Regions from separate parts of the Homo sapiens genome. Here regions 2 and 3 are each linked to region 1. The links come from fine-mapping of genetic effects on gene expression. A gene starts in region 1. Each other region holds a variant in brackets. All regions are shown on one strand. Distances are from middle to middle.

What was found. PIP is the estimated chance that this variant, and not a neighbour inherited with it, causes the effect.
Region 2: its variant is fine-mapped to the expression of CCT4 in fibroblasts (GENCORD, PIP 0.95).
Region 3: its variant is fine-mapped to the expression of CCT4 in whole blood (INTERVAL, PIP above 0.99).

The regions. Positions count from the first base shown.
Region 1 is chr2:61,885,453-61,893,064 of GRCh38, forward strand. CCT4 (chaperonin containing TCP1 subunit 4) reads right to left here and starts at 3,204. Exons shown (of 14, transcript NM_006430.4): 1 at 2,929-3,204. The coding sequence starts at 3,055. It also overlaps a transcript of COMMD1 not described here. RefSeq lists enhancers at 2,232-2,793, 2,794-3,353, 2,895-2,974, 3,914-4,473.
Region 2 is chr2:61,673,210-61,680,821 of GRCh38, forward strand. No RefSeq gene overlaps it. Among named protein-coding and RNA genes, the nearest start is that of XPO1, 140 kb to the left of the region's middle. The variant G/GT (reference allele first, on the strand shown) is at 2,983.
Region 3 is chr2:61,846,498-61,854,109 of GRCh38, forward strand. FAM161A (FAM161 centrosomal protein A) reads right to left here and starts at 7,563. Exons shown (of 7, transcript NM_001201543.2): 1 at 7,362-7,563. The coding sequence starts at 7,544. RefSeq lists enhancers at 7,047-7,176, 7,337-7,496. The variant T/G (reference allele first, on the strand shown) is at 5,635.

The DNA.
Region 1 (7,612 bases):
AAGGCTAGAGTGCAGTGAGGCAATCTCGGCTCACTGCAACCTCCGCCTCCTGAGTTCAAGTGATTCTTCCGCCTCAGCCTCTGGAGTAGCTGGGACTACAGGCACGTGCCACCACACCCAGCTAATTTTTTTGTATTTTTTAGTAGAGATGGGGTTTCACCATGTCGGCCAGGATGGTCTCAATCTCTTGGCCTCAAGATCCGCCTGCCTCGGCCTCCCAAAATGCTGGGATTACAGGTGTGAGCCACCACGCCTGGCCTAGTATTTGTAATCAGCTTATGGCAGAATACATTTTGAGGATTCATCTCATCTTCCTTCAGATGTCAAAATGGTACAATCTAGTTAGGAGCTCTGAGAATTGCTATTTCCTCCATTCCTAAAACAGGACAAGCAGCAACAGAACTGTCTAGATCTAAAATACTGATGGAGGAGTATCCTTTTTCCAAAATGATTAGGACCAGAAGTGTTTTGAATTTTGGAGTATTTCAAATTAGGAATGCTCAATTTACAGATAATTCACTTATTTGTTTACTCTGTCTAGTATGTAATCTCTGAGAGCAAAGACTTTTGTTCACTAATGTGAACATGGTAGATAGGTGGCCCGCCAACACCGCCAAAAGGGCAAACCACAATGGAAATGCTACAGAGCAAGATACTCTTCTAAAAAATCCAACAAGGCTGGGCGTGATGGCTCACACTTGTAATACCAGCACTTTGAGAGGCTGAGGCGGGCAGACCACCTAAGGTCAGGAGTTCGAGACCAGCCTGGACAACATGGCGAAACCCTGCCTCTACTAATACAAAAATGAGCCGGGTGTGGCGGTGCGCATCTGTAGTCCCAGCTAGCTACTCGGGAGGCTGAGGCAGGAGAACCGCTTGAACCCAGGAGGCAGAAGTTGCAATGAGCAGAGATCACACCACTGCACTCCAGCCTGGGGGACAGAGCAAGACAGACTCCATCTCAACAAACAAACCAAACCTAACAAACCAAACAAAAACCAAAACTCTCAAATCATAGCTTTTGGTCATCATCAGTATGTTATAAAACATCTCTGGGGCCGGGTGCGGTGGCTCACGCCTGTAATCCCAGCGCTTTGCGAAGCCAAGGCAGGCCGTCACTTGAGGCCAGGAGTTTAAGACATAACGGGTCATCTTCACAGATAACTTAGGTGGCCTTTCCTTCCCACATGCACACCCTCCTCTGTTGTTTCAGTTCTTTGTCTGCTTTTGTTTCAAAGGTTGCTAAATTTCCCACTTATTTTGTTTGTTGAATATCAACCATATTATAAACTCTCTTGGCCCCCAAATTTATCTTTTTTTTTTTTTGAGACGGAGTTTCGCTCGTCACCCTGGCTGGAGTGCAATGGCGCGACGTCAGTTCACGGCAACCTCCGCCTCCCAGGTTCAAGCTATTCCCCTGCCTCAGCCTCCCGAGTAGCTGGGACTACAGGCCTACGCCAACACACCCACCTAATTTTGTATTTTTAGTAGAGACGGGGTTTCTCCATGTTGGTCAGGCTGGTCTTGAACTCCTGACCTCATGTGATCCGCCAGCCTCAGCCTCCCAAATTGCTGGGATTACAGACGTGAGCCACCCTGCCCGACCCAAAATTTATCTTTCAACATTCTGTTCCTAATCTAATAAATGTAAGCTTCAACTATGGTCCCTAGACAATTATCCTACAAACCTTCGTTTCCAGGTGTATTATCTCCTAAACTTACAAATGACTCCTAAATCTGGCCATTCTGACCTTTCCAACTCATTAGGACAAGTTAGAAACTATTACTTTTTCTTACATCCAGCGTTACCTATCTTAGCGCCATCACATTCCCAGTTACTTGGGCTGATGACTGCAAACACATGTAAGGTGTACTTTATATACGTGGGTCTTTATATGCTTTCTCACTGAATCCTCACAGCAAGCCTACACGATGGCTAAAAAGAAATGATCCCATAGCTGGGGGAGATTAAGCCAAATACTTTCCAGGACACCAGGCCTTTAACATCTGCCCCAACCTAGCTTTCTAATCTCACCTCTTCTGTAAACATACTACTATTCTCCAACCCAAAAGAACTACTATACTCAATATACACTCGGGCAAGATCTCTAAACCTCTGTCCTGACTTTTCCTTCCAGATTTTTCTATTTCAACTCGATTTCTCTTAATCTTAACTCTAAAAAGCAAACATTTTCCTCCAATTTTATAAGTGAATCTTTGGCACAGAGGTTACAGGTCACTAAGACATGAAGTAACGGAAGCAGAGAATGAAACTCTGGTCTTCCTGATTTCCAACGTGTGCCACACACTTCCACAAAAAAAACAAATAATTGTTTCTTGATTTGCCTATGTTTCACTGCACATGCGGAGACGACATCAACGTAACTTTTCCGCAACTATTTCAAACACGACACGTAAGTCGGTTCCCACATCCATCCCAGTACAATGGGCCCCGCCCCAATTTAGACTCGGAGAGTTCACCCAATTCGTCTCAACAGTTGTGCCAAGTGAAGTTTATTTAATAGTTCTTTAAATAAGAATAACAAAGCTGAAAGATACTGTGCATTCTACCAGTTCCAATAAGCAATAAGCGACAGCCCTCAAGCGTCAGATCCCTAGTGAAGACTGCATGCAATCCTCGGCATTTTGAACTGCTTTCGGCTCCAATATGAATGATGCACAGTGCAGGATGAAAAACTAAGGGAGATTAAGATGCAAAATGGGGCAAGTCCAAAGGCCTCCATACTCCGGGTTGGCGATCATCGGCAGAAAAACAGAAATAAGGATCCCTCCACTGGGCTGCTTCTATAGGGAGGACAAGAGAGGATCACCCGAAGAAATGGGAAATGAGCCAAACCCGCTCAAGCCCACGATGAGAGCGCAGAGCACAACCCCGCGGCGCCGCGGGTCAGGCCATGAGAGTGATACCTTTGGCGGCGGAAATGTTGCTGAAGCGGATCTGGGCTGGCTTGTCGCGGTCCTGATAGGCGCCTTTCCCGCGGCCGCCGGCAGCCCCGGCAGTCGCCCCGCTCCGGGGTGCCACATTCTCGGGCATGGCAAACTCCGCTGTGTCTGGGTTGGCTCGGGAAGGACGGATGGACCCGGATTCTGGCCGGCCGCAGTGTAATAACGGTAAGCCCTCACTGCCTTCACGAACCTTCCAGAAAGCGGCGCCGGCGTCGGGAGGAGGCGGAGGCGGAGAAGGGGGCCTTCCTTGCCGCGCGGCGCTGGCGTGACGTAGGAGGCTGTCCGCTGCGCGCCGGGCGAGGAGGATGCGTGCGGTGGGCTCCGGGCTGGCGAGATTGTACGCCCGGGGCGCTGTGGGTGAAGAGCGCCGGGGGAACCTTTACGCGAGGCAGCAATGACAACGCGCGATTTTAAAGGCGAGTGGTGAGGACATCCGCATTTCCTCACTCCACCTTGCACGGCTATGAGGTCCCCTCCTTTTTTTTTTTTTTTTTTTCTTTTTTTGGATACAGTCTCACTCTGTTGCCCAGGCTGGAGTGCAGTGGCGCAAAATCTCGGCTCACTGCAGCCTCCGCCTCCCAGGTTCAAGCGATCCTCCTCAGCCTCCCGAGTAGCTGGGATTACAGGCGTCCGCCACCATGCCCAGCTAATTTTTGTATTTTTAGTAGAGACAGGGTTTCACCATGTTGGCCAGGCCGGTCTCGAACTCCCGACCTCAGGTGATCCACCCGCCTCGGGCTCCCAAAGTGTTGGGATTACAGGCGTCAGCCACGAAGCCCGGCCTTTTTTTTTTTTTTTTTTTTTTTTGACAGAGTCTCGCTCTGTCGTCCAGGCGGGAGTGCAGTGGGGCGATCTTGGCTCACTGCAGCCTCGACCTCCGGGGCCCAAGCGATCCTCCCGCCACAGCCTCCCAACTAGCCAGGACGACAGGTGCCCGCCACCATGCCTAGCGAATTTTTGTATTCGAAACATAGCGAGACTGGGTTTCGCTGTGTTGCCCAGGCTGGTCTGACCTCCCCGGCTCAAAGCGGTCCACCCTCCTCAGCGTTTCAAAGTACTGGGATTACAGGCGTGAGCCACCGCGCCCACCCGGAGGTGCCCTCCTTTAACTCCGGCTGGATCTATCCGCGAGGTGGGGTGGGCGCCGGAATAACTCTCTAAGGGATATGACTGAGTCTGTTTTTGCCCGGCCACATAGACCTGCATTTTATGCAGTTTTGTTCATTTTGAAAGGGAGTCAGAAAAGGGAGATTTGGAATGAGGCGAGGTTAGTTATCTCGTATTGGTTGATACTGGGTGGTGGAGGTTTGACAGACTGCCAAATCAGGTCTGTCTAGTTACCACCGCCCGCTTGTTCTACACTAGTGTCTCCTGCATGACGTAGCCACTGACTCTTAGGGAACGTAAACATTATAATAAAGATCATTTATTTCCGTTATCTGCTAAGCACAGTGCTAAACCTTTACACGTTTTATATCTCGTTTAGTCCTCACAATAATCCTTTACTTAAAAGGTGAGAGAACTGGAGCCCAAAGAAGGAACTGAAGCCCAGGGTAAACGAGTCAGTAGATAGAAGCAGTATTCCAATACAAAGCAAGGACCAGAAGCCATGAGCTAAACTGCTGGTCTCCTATGACCACTATATTTCAGTAGGGAAGTTTATGAAATGAGGTTTGTTGAATGTTCGCTCACAATTATTAAGCACCTGCAAAGTGACAGTTGCGTGTGGTAGGTTCAGAAACAAATGTTCAAAGGTACTTAATCTTGTAATTATGAGGTGGTGGTGGTGTTGTTTGTTTGTTTGTTTTTGTTTGTTTTTGAGACGGAGTTTCACTCTTGTTGCCCAGGCTGGAGCAGTGGCACCATCTCGGCTCACCGCAACCTCCGCCTCCCGGGTTCAAGCGATTCTCCTGCCTCAGCCTCCCCAGTAGCTGGGATTACGGGCATGCACCACCATGCCCGGCTAATTTTGTATTTTTAGTAGAGACGGGGTTTCTCCATGTTGGACAGGGTGGTTTCGAACTCCCGAGCTCAGGTGATAGGCCCGCCTCGGCTTCCCAAAGTGCTAGGATTGCAGGCTTGGCGAGAGCCACCTCGCCAAGTTGTTCTTTAACACACATTTAGCATATTAGCACTAGGGGCCTGGCTCAGTAGCTCACGCCTGTAATCCCAGCACTTTGGGAGGCCGAGGTGGGTGGATCGCTTTAGGTCAGGAGTTTAAGACCAGCCTAGCCAACGTGGCGAAACCCCGTCTCTACTAAAAATCAAAACATTAACCGGGGGTGTAATCCCAGCTACTCGGGAGGCTGAGGCAGGAGAATCCCTTGAAGCCAGGAAGTGGAGGTTGCAGTGAGCCGAGATTGCGCCACTGCACTCCAGCCTGGGTGATAGAGCAAGACTTTGTCTCAAAAAAAAAAAAAAAAAAAAAAGAAGGATATTAGCACTAGGAAATGAAGATCCATAAACCTCTGAGGCCGACTTCTCTTCAGAGGACCAGAATACTCCCAAGTAGCACATAAATTCTATGGTTATTTGTTTAGACAACTGATGTAATATGTTGGAAACAAGTGGGTGATGAGGAAATGCATTAATTTTGGGATGTAAAATACTGGATTTGAGTTTATTAATAGCTCTGCTACTTATTAGCTATGTGACCTAAGGAAGGCCACTTAAATCCTTTGGGTCTCATTTTCCTCATCTGTAAAATAGGAGGGTTGAACTAGATGATCTCTAGGGGCTTACTAAACTACTAGTTCTACCAGTGTAAGGAGTCGATCTGTCAGCCATAAAGGACAGAGCAGAATTTGGAAGATGCCATTATTGGCTTCTTGGGAGAGTCTTAAAGTTTTGAGACATGCTTTAAGTATCTGAAATGTTTCAAGTTACAAACATTTCTTTTTCTGTGAAATTGGAATTATTTTTGTTCGTGGGATTAGGCAGTAAATAAATGTTAAACATCGGCTTTCATCAGAGTGTTAATGTACATTATTTCTCCATTAAAATGGGATTTCAACAAATATTAAAACCTAAACATGGCCGGGCGTGGTGGCTCACACTTGTAATCCCAGCACTTTGGGAGGCCAAGGTGGGTGGATCACAGGAGTTCAAGACCAGCCTGGCCAAGATGGTGAAATCCCATCTCTACTAAAAATACAAAAATTAGCCAGGCGTGGTGTCAGATGCCTGTAATCCCAGCTGTTCGGGAGGCTGAGGCAGGAGAATCACTTGAACTCGGGAGGCAGAGGTTGTAGTGAGCCGAGATCATGCCACTGCACTCCAGCCTGGGCGACAGAGTGAGACTCCATCTCAAAACAAAACAAAAACATAAACACTTGTGTAGAGTACTTTAAGCAAAGCACTGTTGCTAATGAAGGGTAAAAATGTTTTTAAAACTTTCTGATATTTATTTTTTATTTATTTATTTATTTTTGAGATGGAGTCTCGCTCTGTCACCCAGGCTGGAGTGCAGTGGCACAATCTCGGCTCACTGCAAGCTCCGCCTCCCGGGTTCACGCCATTCTCCTGTCTCAGCCTCCTGAGTAGCTGGGACTACAGGCGCCCACCACCAAGCCCGGCTAGTTTTTTGTATTTTTAGTAGAGAGGGGGTTTCACCGTGTTAGCCAGAATGGTCTCGATCTCCTGACCCGGTGATCCGCCTGCCTTGGCCTCCCAAAGTGCTGGGATAAAAGGCATGAGCCACCATGCCCGGCCAGCTTTCCTATATTTAAAAAATACTTTCCAAAACAAAACAAAACCAAACAAACAAAAATACTTTCCTGTCAGATCCAAGCAGACGTAAGGCATATGTGGGAATGTTGGCAATAACAATACAATTTCCTTAATAATTTATGAAATAGGTTTTACAAAACAATAATACTTTGTCAGCCATCCAAATGAAGGTTCTCTTTAGAATGAATAGCCCACGATGTCCTAGACCCTCAATAATAGGACTGAGCCAGGAACTGGTTAAGGTTAGAAAAGAAGAGAGGAGGGGCCAGGTGCGGTGGCTCATGCTGTAATCCCAGCACCTTGGGAGGCGGAGGAGGGTGGATCAGCTGAGGTCAGGGGATTGAGACCATCCTGGCTAACACGGTGAAACCCTGTCTCTACTAAAAATACAAAAAATTAGCCCGGTGTTGTGGCATGCACCTGTATTCCCAGCTACTGGGGAGGCTGAGGCAGGAGGATCGCTTGAACCTGGGAGGTGGAGGTTGCGGTGAGCCGAGATCGTGCCATTTCACTCCAGCCTGGGCAACAAGAGGGAAACTCTGTCTCAAAAAAAAAAAAAAGAAAAGAAAAGAAGAGAGGGCTGTATGTATCTTATCTCTCTTAGGTTTTACTCCAATTCAAAGACAGTGTTTGTTGTTATTTTGTATTTTTCTCTGCATTAGTTTATTATCGAGACCACCATTAAGCCCCGTTTTCCTAAGCCTTACTGTTTGCATCGTTCTTTTTTTTTCCCCCCTGAAACGGAGTCTCGCTCTGTCGCCCAGCCTGGAGTGCAGTGGCGCAATCTCAGCTCACTGCAACCTCTGCTCCACGGGTTCAAGTGATTCTCCTGCCTCAACCTCCCGAGTAGCTGGGACTATAGGCATGCGCCACCGTGGTCGGCTAATTTTGTATTTTTAGTAGAGACGGGGTTTCA
Region 2 (7,612 bases), 210 kb before region 1:
TGGGAGGCGGGGGTTACAGTGAGCTGAGATTGCGCCACTGCACCCCTGCCTGGATGACAGAGTGAGACTGTCTCAAAAAAAAATGTGTATATATATATATATATATATACACACATTATATATATATATATAAATATATATGTATATACATGTATATATATATATACGTGTACACATATATATATATATATATACACGTGTGTGTGTGTATATATATATATATATATATATAATGAATTCCACAATTCCAGAGATAACCATTGTTAGGGCAAATGAGTATTACTAAAATTTATTTTATTTTATTTTATTTTTTGAGTCAAAGCCTGGTTCTGTCATTGAGGCTGGAGTGCAGTGCCCCTATATTGGCTCACTGCAACCTCTACCTCCTGGGCTCAAGCCATTCTCCCATCTCATCCTCCCAAGTAGCTGGGCCTACAGGCACATACCACCACACCCAGCTAATTTTTGTATTTTTTGTAGAGATGGGGTTTTGCCATGTTGGCCAGGCTGGTCTCTAACTCCTGGCTTCAAGTGATCTGCCTGCCTCAGCCTCCCAAAGTGCTGGGATTACAGGCGTGAGCCACTGTGCCTGGCCTTGGAATTTTAATAATTATTGCTACATTTCCCTCTAAAAAGTTTGTATCTATTAATACCCTCACCAATAGTGGATGAGGTTGCTTGTTTTCCCACATATTTGCCAACATTGGATATTTTCATTCTTTTAAATCTTTGCTGGCCAGGTGCAGTGGCTCATGCCTGTACTCCCAGCACTTTGGGAGGCCGAGGCGGGTGGATCACCTGAGGTCAGGTGTTCAAGACCAGCCTGACCAACATAGTGAAACCCCATCTATACTAAAAATACAAAAATTAGCTGGGCATGGTGGCTCACGCCCATAGTCCCAACTACTCAGGAGGCTAAGGCAGGAGAATCGCTTGAATCTGGGAGATGGAGGTTGCAATGAGCTGAGATCACATCATTGCACTCCAGTCTGGGCGACAGAGCAAGGCTGTCTCAAAAAAGAAAAATCTTTGCCAATCTCATGGGAGAAAAATAACATTGAGCATCTTTTCATTTTGTGATGACCATTTGATTTCTTTGCCCCTAGTTTGAAATGTTCCCTTTATCATAACTCACCAGTGCATCCCCAGCAGCTAGCACATAGGAAGCTCTCAATAAATCAAGGAATGATCTATTGCTGCGCTTTTGAAGAAAAAAATGGCATGATCACGTCTGTGTTTTAGACCACTGTGCTGATGACAGTATAGAGAAAGGGCTGAGAACAGAAAACCATTGAATTCATGGTTTAATGTTGAAAGAAAAACTTTAGGCAAAGTCAATTTAATAGAGTATAATTGAGCAAAAAATGATTCACAAATTGGGCAGCACATCCCACCCCCAACTATGATAGGTTTAGAGAGACTTCTGGGGTGCCACGTGTTCTGACGGGATTTATGGACAGAAAGAGGAATGTGACACAGAAAATGGAAGTGAGGTACAGAAACAGCTGGATTGGTTATAGCCCTGATGGTTGTCTTACTTGAGCGCTGTTTGAACAGCTGGCCACCTGTGATTGGCTGAAGTATGGTTCTGTGATTGGTTGAGACTCAGCTCTTTGTTACAAGTGTAGTTTACAGTCTATTTACACATCTAGTTAGGTTTAAGTTCACTGTATGGTGTAAGCTTTTGGCCAAACTTAAAATACTTAAGAAGCTTTAGTTAAATTTAATCTATCATACCATAGTCAGAAAATCATTAAATTTTTTCAGGAAAGAAATGGCAAGTGCCTTACTTAGGGTAGTGCCATGGGGATAAAAAATGGGAATGGCTATGGAGCATGAGAGGTGTGGAATTGAGAAAGCTTGGTGCCCATTTAAGCAGGCAAGAGGATGAAAGTCAAAGATGTGTTAAAGAAGACTGGGGTTTCTAGCATCAAGGAACAAAATTACAAATTTAAAGATCTCAGTTGGCTTTGTTTGAGATTCTAGAATCAGGCAATATTTTATTCCATAAAATATAGTAGGTGTTTGGATTGAAACTGGCCTAATTGTCCCATAAAACTGATGTTTATGATTTCTTTTGAATAAACATAGAAACTGACACTCACAGTCTTAAAACTTGAGAAAGTTACATTTGTCTTATCTGAGTTCCTTTCTCAGGAAACCAACCATCAGGCCTCCCATATAGTACCAAGGAGCTGAAAGTTACCAGATCATTGCATCTGGACAAAGAGACTCAAGACTTTTTACCCATCATGATTGCCTAAATGACAACCTGCTTCCTGTTGACCAACTTATTTTCCTTACCTCTGCCTAATTCCTGTGTTTTGCATATAGTTACATTTCTTCCCTGCTACAGAAACCTCTGATTTTAGTTGGTCAGGGAGATGGATTGAAGACTGATCTCCCATCTCCTCAGATGCAGGACTTGATTCAAAGCCTTCTTCCCTGGCAATACTCAATGCCTCAATGATTGGCTGTCTGTGCACCAAGCAGCAGCACCTAGACCAAACCCTTGGCGTTTTAGTAGCATGCATGATAAGCTGAGCAGAAGAGATTGGCTTTATAGACAGAGAAAGGCTGAAGAAAGCGGAAGAGAGCAGAAGCAAAGAACACAGAATATTAGTTATTTCAAAGCAACTCTTCTTATAAGGTGGGAACAGGAGGCTAAAACAACAGAAAAACAGCTTATTAATGTCAGATTACATCAGGCTATTTCTTTTGTATAAGGATTAAAGCAGAGGGAACTTCATTATCATGTGGATTGAAGATTGAAACTGGCCTGTTCGAGGAAATTGGCTGTTATCTCTTTCTCCTGCCTTCTAGGAAGGTGAGATAAAAACTTAGTGTGGGTTTGATGACTTAGAACTTTAGCATGGGTGACTCCATTTTTTTTAGCCTTGTCTGTTGGGGCCTAGTACAGGAGCTTAGTCCAAAACAATGGCTTCCAATAATTTTTATTTCTACTAGCTTGGGTGGTTGAGT[G/GT]TTTTTTTTTTTTTTTTTTTTTTGAGATGGAGTCTTGCTCTGTCACCCAGGCTGGAGTGCAGTGGCACGATCTTGGCTCACTGCAAGCTCCACCTCCCAGGTTCAGCCATTCTCCTGCCTCAGCCTCCCGAGTAGCTGGAACCTCAGGTGCCTGCCACCATGCCTGGCTAATTTTTTGTATTTTTAGTAGAGATGAGGTTTCACCGTGTTAGCCAGGATGGTCTTGATCTCCTGACCTCGTGATCCGCCTGCCTCGGCCTCCCAAAGTGTTGGGATTACAGGCGTGAGCCACTGCACCTGGCCAGTTGAGTGAATTTTGATATAGTTAATGGAAATATGGAACCCATAATGAGACCTACCTTCTCCTATCCTACTGCTTGTGATGTTGTTCTCATTTCCTCTTGCTTTAATTATGATAGTGTCCCATCAGTTTCCTTATTTTGCATCTCTGATGTATACTTTTCCACCGGAGTCCTCTGCCTGGAAGTGTGTTCAAGTTGCCCCTTTCCTCAACTACACTATTATTGTAGTCTTTTCTTTATTACCTCCATTGCCTCACTTTTTTTTTTTTTTTTTGAGATGGAGTCTCGCTCTGTGGCCCAGGCTGGAGTGCAGTGGCACAATCTTGGCTCACTGCAAGCTCCGCATCCTGGGTTCACGCCATTCTCCTGCCTCAGCCTCCCAAGTAGCTGGGACTACAGGCGCCCGCCACCATGCCTGGCTAATTTTTTGTATTTTTAGTAGAGATGGTGTTTCACTGTGTTAGCCAGGATGGTCTGGATCTGCTGACCTCGTGATCTGCCTGCCTCTGCCTCCCAAAATGCTGGGATTACAGGCGTGAGCCACTGTGCCTGGCCCCTACCTCACTTTTTTTAAACCACCACTCATCATACATTAATTCATCCACTTATTTATGAATATTTATGGAGAGCTTTCGATGTGCTAGTGTTAAATTAAGTTTAGCCTAAAGCTGTCTCTTTACATATTTTATTTTATTTATTTTTTGAAACAGGGTCTCACTCTGTCACCCAGGCTGGAGTACAGTAGCGGCAACATGGCTTACTGCAGTTTTGACCTCCCAGGCTCAGGTAATCCTCCCACCTCGGCCTCCCAGGTAGCTAGGACCACAGGTGCATGCCACTGCACCTGGCTAATTTTTTGTAGAGATGGGGTTTTGCCATGTTGCCCAGGCTGGTCTCACATTCCTGGGCTCAAGGGATCCACCCACCTCAGCCTCCCAAAATGCTGGGATTATAGGCATGAGCTGGCACACTCAGCCATATTTACATACATTAAAGGTTTCTCTGTACATAGTGAACTGTAATCTAACTGGATGTGTAAACAGACCATAACTGAAACTGTCTTTGCAAAGATTATGACAGAGAAATCTGACATGGCTGACTTGATCTTGCTTCTATCCTCAGGCTGGCTATGTCTGCTCATTCCTGGACATACGGCAAGCTAACCATGGGAATAATTTAGTATATTTATTTACTTATTTATGTTTGAGATAGGGTCTTACTCTGTTGCTTAGGCTGGAGTGTGACTTCCCCAGTTGCTTCTAGAGATAACATCACTATTGTGAACCTAAGATTGGTCTTTTGAGATGTATTTCAGACTTTTGCATTATGGCAACTGACTGACCCCACCCAGACTTGTGACTGTTGACCCAGCTGGTCCTGTGGCCCCCTACCCTGAGGTGGACTCGGCACACAAGGACTCTTTTCCACAACCCTGTGATTGCATTCCTAACCAGTCAGCAGCACCCATTCCCTAGTCCTTTGCCCACCAACCTATCCTTGAAAAACCCTAATCTCCAAGCCTTTGTGGAGACTGATTTGAGTAGTAACTCTATCTGCCATGTGGCTGGCCTGGCATTAATTAAACTCTTTCTCTACTGCAATACATGGCCTCAGTGAACTGGTTTTGCCTGTGTGATGGGCAGGGAGAATCCATCAAGTGATTACATAACCTACTCTGGTGCCAATCACCAAGTGTTGGCTAATCAAAGGTGGCCAGCTGTTCAAACTGGGTTCAAATAGGGCAAATGCCAAGCTGTAACCAATCTGTTTTTGCACCTCATCTGTACCTGACCTTTCTTTTTCTGTCCATAAAACTTCTTTGTCCAAGCAGTAGCACCAAACCCTCTCTGAACCTGTTCTGGTTTGGGGGCTTCCCAATTCATGAATTGTTCTTTGCTCAATTAAATTCTGTTAAATTTAAGTGTTGAAGGTTTTTCTTTTAACACTAGTTATGGTTCTAGGGTTTGGGGAGCACCAGCAAATAAAAGAGGCAACAATCTCTGCTTTCTTGGAATTCACATACTGTTCTACTTACTCCTTATTTCCTTTTATGTACTTCCACCATTTTCCTGGAATTTTTATTCTGAAGGTTGATGCTGACTTCAAGATCATTAAATCCAAGAGTCATTTCTTGGTCTCTTTGTGTTGACCCACTCTCTTTTCCTTTAGCTTCTTTAACTCTTGTCTCCACCTCTTCTGCTCTTCTTTCTATTCCCTGGATGCTTTATTTATGTTTCCTTCTCTGCCTTTCCTTCATTTGTTTCCCCCATCTTCCTACTCATGTTTCAAGGACCGAAGCCATGCTCACAGGGTTAACAAGAATTCTGGACAGAAATATAGTTATTATTAAGCACTAATCAGCCTGCACTTTGACTGACTTCCTTGTAAGTGAGTCTCTAGACACGGATGACACTAGATACTGTTTGCATTCCCACTGTTCCTATAGACAGGATTTCTGAAGTTAGATAAGATCTCTGATGTTAGAATCGTAAGATTTTATTTAAGAATTGCGTAAGTGAATCCTGAATTCCAGTAGACCAGCTGATGCCAATCAGTTTAAAGACCCCCCCACAGAAAAAACAAATCGGCATTAGAATATCATTTCCTCATCTTTCTCTCCCATGACTTTCCCTGCACTTGTCAGCCAATCAACAATCTCCACACTTCAGCCCACTCAAAAGCCCTTAAAATTCCTAGCCTCAGACTCCTCAGGAAGATAGATTTGAGGTTTTGTCCTGTTTCCTTGTTAGACAGCGCTACAAGTAAACACCTGTCTCTGCTGCAACACTGTGTCTCGGTGTGTTGACTTTCGGTGCACATTGAGCAATGGACCTATTAGGGCTACAGGACTAGCTCTCAGGACATTTGACTTGCACTGTAGCTACTCGGTTGTGTGTTTTATCTAGTCCATGGTTTCCTGAAGTATTTTCCATTGAACAGAAGTTCTTTAGATTGTTAATAGATGCTATATAACAAACGGGTTTGGTGATCACATTCTTTTGGGAAACTCTGAGCTTCTCTATGGCAGAACTTCTTAGAGTAATAAACATGCTCGTGAGAATTATGAACCACCTACAGAAGAAATGATATATGGTACCATGTTCCCTCATGTCTTTGATCATAGAACCTTATTTTTGAGTTGTATTTTGCAGGACTTCTGAAGAACACACTTCAGAAGACACTATGCTAGACAATAAGCTCTTTGAGAGCCAAGACCTTACTATATCTATTTGTTCATATATTCCCTAGAGAACTCCAAAGAATATTTTGGTTCTAGTAGGTATTCAATACACTTCAATAAGTACAGACTAAGTTGAAGGGATTCCAGGTACAAAAGTGAAAGGGCAGGAAAGCAGGGGTCATATTTAGGAACACTTGATTTAGTGGGGCAATAAATGATGAGGAGAAATCCTATAAACAATTATGTACCAACAAATTAGATAATTTATTCATAGAAAGATACAAGCTAACAAAAATTAACTCAAGAAGAAATAAACAATTTGAATAGGTCATAACAAGTAAATACATTTAATTAATAATAAAAAAAGCCAATCACCAAGAAAATCCTGGGCCCAGATGGCTTCACCACTGAATTATAACAAATAAAGGTACAGTAGGTACCATCAAGCCTGTGGATGGACGAATGGGAACTTTACCCATCAGTAATGGACTGCTAAAGGTTAGAAGAGGAGAATGACACAGTCAGGGCAGGCCAAATTCCTCTTTCCAAACAGAGATGCTGCTGACCTGCCTGGATCATCGACACTCCTAAACTGGGCTGGGCCAGATTGGTTCTGGATGTACTGGACACAGGTTCTGTGACATGCACTGTTTGATCAGACATGAAATTCAAGGCTGTGAGGTAGTCTCATCGTTCTGAGCAGGAATGTGGTATCAGAAATAGTCATAAATATCCTAAATCCCCAAATCGCCAGCAACAGGGCCTTAATACCACCCACTGGTCTAGAAATTAGTCTGAAAGTAGGTTATGCTGGTATGAAGTGGGCAGCTACCTGTTGCTTCAGGAAACTGATGTTACTTTGGCTAAATCAGGACAGGCTTGCTTTCATAATTTTTACTAAGGAATCAAAGCTTCTCAGAAAAATGTGACCAAAGCTCATCTCAAACTATAGCCATAAACATCACCCAAAATTGTCTTAAATATTACAAAATTCCCAAATGAGCTTTCTCCCTATACCTCTCCTTTTTTGTTTGTTTGTTTGTTTGTTTGCTTGTTTTTTGAGACAGTTTCACTTCGGTTGCCCAGGCTGAAGGTGCAGCGGCGTCATCTCGGCTCACTGCAACCTCTGCCTCCTGGGTTCACGTGA
Region 3 (7,612 bases), 39 kb before region 1:
ATACAAGCCTGGGCTCCGCACTTAGCAATGTGATGTGGGCATGAACTTCTTGAACATCAGCTTTAAGATATGTAAAGTAGGTGTGCCAGGTGTTAAACTAGTGTCTCTCAGCTCCAATGCCACCCTTCTCGACTCTGCTTTGCAATGCCAGAGCTGGAACTCTGCAAACCACACTTCTGCTTTGCCAGTGCTCCTCATCAGACTCTGCTAAAAGTGGAGTTAGAGGGAGATACAAGGCTAGAGGAGAAAGATGGGACTTACTCCTTTCTGTTAGCCCTCTGACTGCTTCCTGTCGGCTTGTGTCAGTCTAGCAACGGTTATTCATCTGGGCAGCAGCAGTTCGTTTTAGTAGCAGTGTCTGAATCCAGTATGCAGTTTTCACTCGAAAAATCAACAGAATTGGCCAGGCACAGTGGTTCATGCCTGTAATCCCAGCACTTTGGGTCACTTGAGGTCAGGAATCCGAGACCAATCTGGCCAACATGGTGAAACCCCATCTCTACTAAAAACAAAACTTAGTCGGGTGTGGTGGTGCATGCCTATAATCCCAGCTACTCGGGAGGCTGAGGCAGGAGAATCGCTTGAATCCAGGAGGCAGAGGTTGCAGTGAACCAAGATCGCACCACTGCACTCTAGCCTGGGTGACAGAGTGAGGCTCCATCTCAAAAAAAAAGAAACAAAAATCCACAGAATTACTTCAAGGCCTTTGCACTTGCTGTTCCCTCTCCCTAGGATGCCTTTTCCTCCAGATATCCACATGACCCACTTGCTCACTCCTTCAGGTCTTTATGTAAATGTTGTCTTCTCAATAAGGTCTTCCCTGACTCTCCTATTTAAAATTACAACTTCTCCCAGGACTCACTGTCAGCCCCCTTGTCTGTCTTATTTTTCCCAGAAGTACTCATCACCATTGACGTCCTACATATCTGTACTTGATTGTGTATTATATGCCTGCCCCTACCAAAAAGTAAACATTACAAAGGTAAGAATTTGCCAGGCCTGATGGCTCAGGCCTGTAATCCCAGCACTTTGGGAGGCTGGGGCAGGTGGATTGCTTGAGCCCAGGAGTTTCAGACCAGCCTGGGTAACACGTCAAGGCCTCATCTCTACAAAAAATACAAAAAATTAGCTTGGTGAGGTAGTATGCACCTATAGTCCCAGCTAGTTGGGGGACTGAGGCGGAAGGATCACCTGAGCCCAGGAGGTTGGGGCTGCAGTGAGCTATGATGGAGGCACTGCACTCCAGCCTGGGTAACAGTGTGACCCTGTCTCAAAAAAACAAAACAAAACAAAAAGAAAGGCAAGGATTTGTCTGCTTTGTTTAATGTTGTGTCCCCAGTGTCTAGAAAAGTACCTGGCTAATGGCAGATGTTCAAGGAATATTTACTGAATGAATGAATGAATGTACAGAAAAAAAAAATTCCACCTTGGGAAGAGGGCAGTTACTCCCTCCCAAAAGAATGAACCATGCAAAGAAATGCTGGCTGCTCTAAAGAGCTATATTCCACCAAGTATTAAGAAAAAGGCCTATGTTCCAAAAACTATAATTAAAACAGGGAGGGTATTTCAAAGAACTGTTTTTAAGCAAAAGAATCTATGCGCTCTCATTCATTCTTTTAGAATATCTCTTAAAAATCATGTCTTATAGCAGTCATTTACACAAGAAGGATCAAATTTATTTGGACCTGGAAGAACCGTTTGAAAACCATATAGAAGAATGAGTAGCTTCTGAAAGATGCGGCAGGTCTGATAAATTATACTTATGTACTGATTTTGCACTGGATCCATTCTGTTTTCAGCTTAATACTGTTAACGCTAGCTGAAACTTTTCAGATAAACTGATCTCACAGTGTTTAACCTAAAACAGATGAATGGCTAGTAAATGACCTCCAATTCTAATTTAATCTTTAATTGTCTCCACTGAGAAAATATTTAGTATACAAAATAACCTAGGCCATAGACATTATTTTTCCAAGAGCCTAAAATAGCATCCTCTCCCTTTAATCGGCTTTTTGTGGAATGTTGTAAATGCAGCCACCAGATTAGAGGATAATCTTCCCTAGATTGGCTTGACCCATTTAGATAATGAATCCTTCCAGTACCTGTTGCTTTATTAGTAATCAGCACCTATGAAGAATTATTTGTGCTGCAGCCTATATAGTTTCATCTGCAACCTGTAATTTTTGAAAAAATTTTTTTCGCTGAATTTGTAAAGAATGAGAGAGATCTACATGTACTAACATGGGTAAACTCCCAATAAATAAGAAAAAAAAGCAAGTTGCAGAACTATCTCCCTCTCTCTGTCTATATATATATTTATATATATATATCTATATATATTTATATATATATTTATATATATATTTATATATATATTTATATATATATTTATATATATTTATATATATATTTATATATTTATATATATTTATATATATATATTTATATATATTTATATATATATTTATATATATATATATTTATATATTTATATATATTTATATATATATTTATATATTTATATATATTTATATATATATTTATATATTTATATATATTTATATATATATAAATATATATATTTATATATATATTTAAATATATATATTTATATATATATTTAAATATTTATATACTTATATATATTTATATATTTATTTATATATTTATATAGTATGTACTGTATATTAAAATATATGGAGGAGATAGAAAAACGGCCAGAGAATAGAATACATATCAATTTTGAAACAGTGGCTACCATTAGGGAGGGAGTAGGTATTCATATTTTCTCTTCTGGGGGAGAGTTGTTAAAAGGGCCTAAGCGTCATATGTAACATTTGATATTTTAAGAGAAGAATGTCACCTGGTATGGTGGCATATACTTCTAACCCGAGCACTATGGGAGGCCGAGGAGGGCGAATTGCTTGAGCCCAGGAGTTTGAGACCACCCTGGGCAACATAGTGAGACCTTTATTTTACAAAATAAAAATAAAAATAAAAAAATTAGGCCAGGATGGTGGCTCAGGCCTGTAATCACAGCACTTTGGGAGGTCAAGGCTGGCGAATCACTTGAGGTCAGGAGTTCAAGATCATCCTGGCCAACATGGTAAAACCCCGTCTCTACTAAAAATACAAAAATTAGCTAGGTGTGGTGGTGTGCACCTGTAGTCCTAGCTACTCAGGAGGCTGAGGCAGGAGAATCACTTGAACCCAGGAGGCACAGGTCTCATTGAGCCGAGATTGTGCCACTGTACTCTAGCCTGGTGACAGAGCGAGACTCCATCACAAAAAAAAAAAAAAAAAGAGAATGAAATCATGTCCTTCACAGCCACGTGGATGGAGCTGTAGGACATAATCTTAAACAAATTAACAGAAAACCAAATATCACATGTTCTCATAAGTGGCAGGTAAAATAATGAGTACACACGAACATAAACATGGAAACCACAGACACTGCGGGCTACCACCAGGTGGGGAGGGAGGGAGGGAGGGAGGGCGGCGTAGGTTGAAAAACTATCTATTGGGTACCATGCTCACTACCTGGATGCAATATACCCATGTAACAAACCTGCACATGCACCTCTGTATCTAAAATAACAGGTGAATTTAAAAATATAGGCCAGGCATGGTAGCTCATGCCTGTAATCCCAGTACTTTGGGAGGCTGAGGCGGGCGGATCACCTGAGGTCAGGAGTTGGAGACCAGCCTGACCAACATGGAGAAACCCCGTCTCTACTAAAAATACAAAATTAGCCGGGCGTGGTGGCACACGCCTGTAATCCCAGCTACTTGGGAGGCTGAGGCAGGAGAATCGCTTGAACCTGGGAGGTGGAGGTTGTGGTGAGCCAAGATCACGCCACTGCACTCCAGCCTGGGCAACAAGAGTAAAACTCCATCTCAAAAAAATATATGTGTGTGTGCGTTCGTGTGTATGTGTGTATATGTGTATGTATGTATGTATATCGACAGTGGAGCCAGGCACAGTGGCTCACGCCTATAATCCCAGCACTTTTGGGAGGCCAAGGCAGGTGGATCACTTGAGCCCAGGAGTTCGAGACCAGCCTGGGGAACATGGTGAAACTCTGTCTCTACAAAAAATATAAAAATTAGCTGGGCGTGGTGGCATGCACCTTTAGTTCCAGCTACTTGGGAGGCTGAGGTGAGGAGATTGATTGATCCTGGGAGGTTGAGACTGCAGTGACCTGTGACTGCACCAGTGCATTCCAGCCTGGACAAGAGAGTGAAACTCTGTCTCAAAAAATAATAAATAAAAAGTGGAGTCAGAAGAAAAACAATAGGTTCTCTCCTATTTATTTTTAATCATTATAGGCTGTTCATTTCTTTCCCAACATTTCCCATCTTATAGTTATGTGTCTGTTCATTTTTTGTTTTTTGAGATGGAGTTTCGCTCTTGTTGTCCAGGCTGGAATACAATGGCGTGATCTCGGCTCACTGCAACCTCCACCTCTCGGGTTCAAGCGATCCTCCTGCCTCAGCCTCCTGAGTAGCTGAGATTACAGGCATGTGCCACCACGCCCGGCTAATTTTGTATTTTTAGTAGAGATGGGGTTTCTCTATGTTGGTCACGCTGGTCTTGAACTCCCAACCTCAGGTGATCCACCCACCTCAGCCTCCCAAAGTGATGGGATTACAGATGTGAGCCACCGCGCCCGGCCCTGTTCATTTTTAATTGTCTGATTTCCCTCACCAGACTGAAAATTCTGTGAGGATGTGAGCTATATATACACTGAATAGTTAATGACTAGCACTTAATAAATGTTCAATATTTGTTGAAAAGATAAGGTTGCCCCATTAGGAGTGAGATTTTATTTTTTCTTTTTATTTATTTATTTTTTTGAGACATAGTCTCACTCTGTTGCCCAGGCTGGAGTGCAGTTTTTGCATCTCAGCTCACTGCAACCTCCGCCTCCCGGGTTCAGGCAATTCTGCCTCAGCGCCCCCTAGTAGCTGGGATTACAGGCGCGTGCCACCACGTCCGGCTACTTTTTGTATTTTTAGTAGAGACCGGGTTTTGCCATGTTGGCCAGGCTGGCCTCAAACTCCTGACCTCAAGTGATCTACCTGCCTCAGCCTCCCAAAGTGCTGGGAGGAGTGAGATTTTAATTGCGAATTACAGAATACTGCGTTACCTGTGTCATCATCAGTCATATAACAGGATATGTGGACCAACATCTCTGACTAAGGCTAGATTCAAGGAACAGGCATCAGTGCCCAATATGGGCACTGCAAGGGGGGTGCGTGTGTATGCCAGAGCTGGGAGGGTGTATAGGGATGGTGCAGGGGTTGGGGGGTTGGGGGGCAGTGTGGGGTGGGATGAGTGGTCTGGCTTTGGCAAAACCAAAGAGCTGAAAGAGGCCTATTGTGATGGGTGGTTCTCAAATCAATCTTGTGGGTTAGGTATAATATTTGACTTTACTACATTTTATAGATAATAAGGTTAAGGCAAATTAACCTTTAAAAATCAAGATGGAGACCCAAGCCAACCAGTGAAGAAAGCAGAGCCTATTTCCTGCACTCTTCCTGCCTTCTTAATGCCTCTTCCCCCAGCCTGTGCCCCCTGGCTATCAGGCCCACTGTGGCAGCTTACCCAGCTTTACTTTTGGATCCCTCATG[T/G]GTGGTGGTCTCAGAACAGTACCAAACTCTTAAGACTTGGCTTCCTTTTTTTTTTTGTAGGATCCTGTCCTTTCCAAACTAGATTATTGTATAAACTGATCCCTCCTAAGGTAATAACAGTTTCTAACACAAATTTGCAGTTTAACAGGGCACTGTGGAAGCATATCTGCAACTTAGAAGTGACTGACTCCTTTACCACAGCAAGCCAAAGTTGAGTTTAATCTTTGGGAAGGCACACAAATGACACTCCCACTGGCAACTCATTTACATAGATTGCTCTTTAGAGGAGACACACATTCTTTCATTTGGTTCTCATAGAGCTGAGATGGGAAAAAAGAGACAATTATTATAGTTATTTTACAGATAAGGAAACTGAGGTTTAAGGAAATTATGTCCTAACACCACCTAGGAAGTGGCAGGGAATGGATCCTAATACAGAACTCTTCAATCCTTTTTCTCCATCACGTTGCCTTGTTGCCTACTGAAAATTGTGTTGAGGGGTAGCTTCATCATGAACAAAATCGGTCCTAGCACTCTGATCCTGGTTCATGTTCAGGGTCTCAGTCTGCCTTACTCTGGATAACTTCAAGTTGTTTGTCTGTTGGTGAAAGATTGGTCACAAAAGGTGTTGCTAAAGATGTTCTCATTAACAATTTTACTGTAGATTAAAGAGATCAGAATTCCAAAATATCCAGTGATTTCAGTTAGTCCTCAATCATAAGTTTGGTGTCTGAGAAGCTTTGGACACATGGTATTAGGAAATTTTTTCTATCTGCAGATTGCTAGTTTAAATTCAAGATTCCCATCTTTTTTTTTTTTTTTTTTTTTTGAGACTGGGTCTGAGATCTCAGCTCACTGCAACCCTCACCTCCCAAGTTCAAGCGATTCTCCTGCCTCAGCCTTCCGAGTAACTAGGATTACAGGGGCGCACCACCACGCCCGGCTAAATTTTGTATTTTTAGTACAGACGGGGTTTCACCATGTTGGTCAGGCTGGTCTCGAACTCCTGACCTCGTAACCCGCCCACCTCGGCCTCCCAAAGTGCTGGGATTATAGGCACGAGCCACCGCGCCCGGCCAAGATTCCCATCTTTTAAGTGAATTGAGCAGATGGCAGACCCTGCCCTCTACCTGCTGGACTGGTGTCCACAACAGATTTAACAATGAAAACTGATCAGTGAAAAGGCCGTCTCGCTGTACCCTAAAGAGCTGTTTAGGAAACACTGAAACCTCAGTGATTTGCTTATCTGTATCCGTGTCTGATTTAGCCAGTGAACACGTGATGGTTTTAAACACACATCTTTAGAGCACTATGTTGAGATCCGCTTATAACCAAGATCTTAAGGTAATAACGAAACACACCTGACAGAACAGTTTTCCTCAAATTACTATATATAGCCAGATATATCTCTATATATCCATTCCCGAGATGCTGGAGAGTAGAGAGTAAAATTCTATACTTTGCACTTGCCAGAAGCAGAGTAACATAAATGTTGTCTAGGAAGCTTTTACAACAGACTGGTGAAAATTAAAACACTTTTCAACGCCTCGATTTAGAGTAATTTTCGTGAGCGTAGAGAAGGGGCTGGGCCAGGACCACCAAGTAGGGACTATGTGCACAGGGACCCGCGTTTACCAGCCTGCCCTCAGCTGGGCGGGGAACCGGACAGCCCTCAGCCTGCACCCAGCCCATGCGAGGTCCCAGCCCAAGTCCCGCCCCAGTATTACCGATGCCCCAGCGGGCTGAGCCACTTTCTCCTCCTCTTCGTCCTCCAAGATCGCCTCCGCTGCCGCCAGGGCCTTTAAGGGGTCTTCGCGTTCGTACTGGGCGACCCGCGCTCCAGTGATGGGATTTACCGGGGTCTGGAGACTGGAGGCCACCAGCTTCGCCACTCGGTGGGAGGTGGCCATCGCCCCGCCTCCGAGGCCTGAGCGCCTGCGCTGGCCCGGGACGGGAAAGCTGGTGCGGCCCCTGGCAA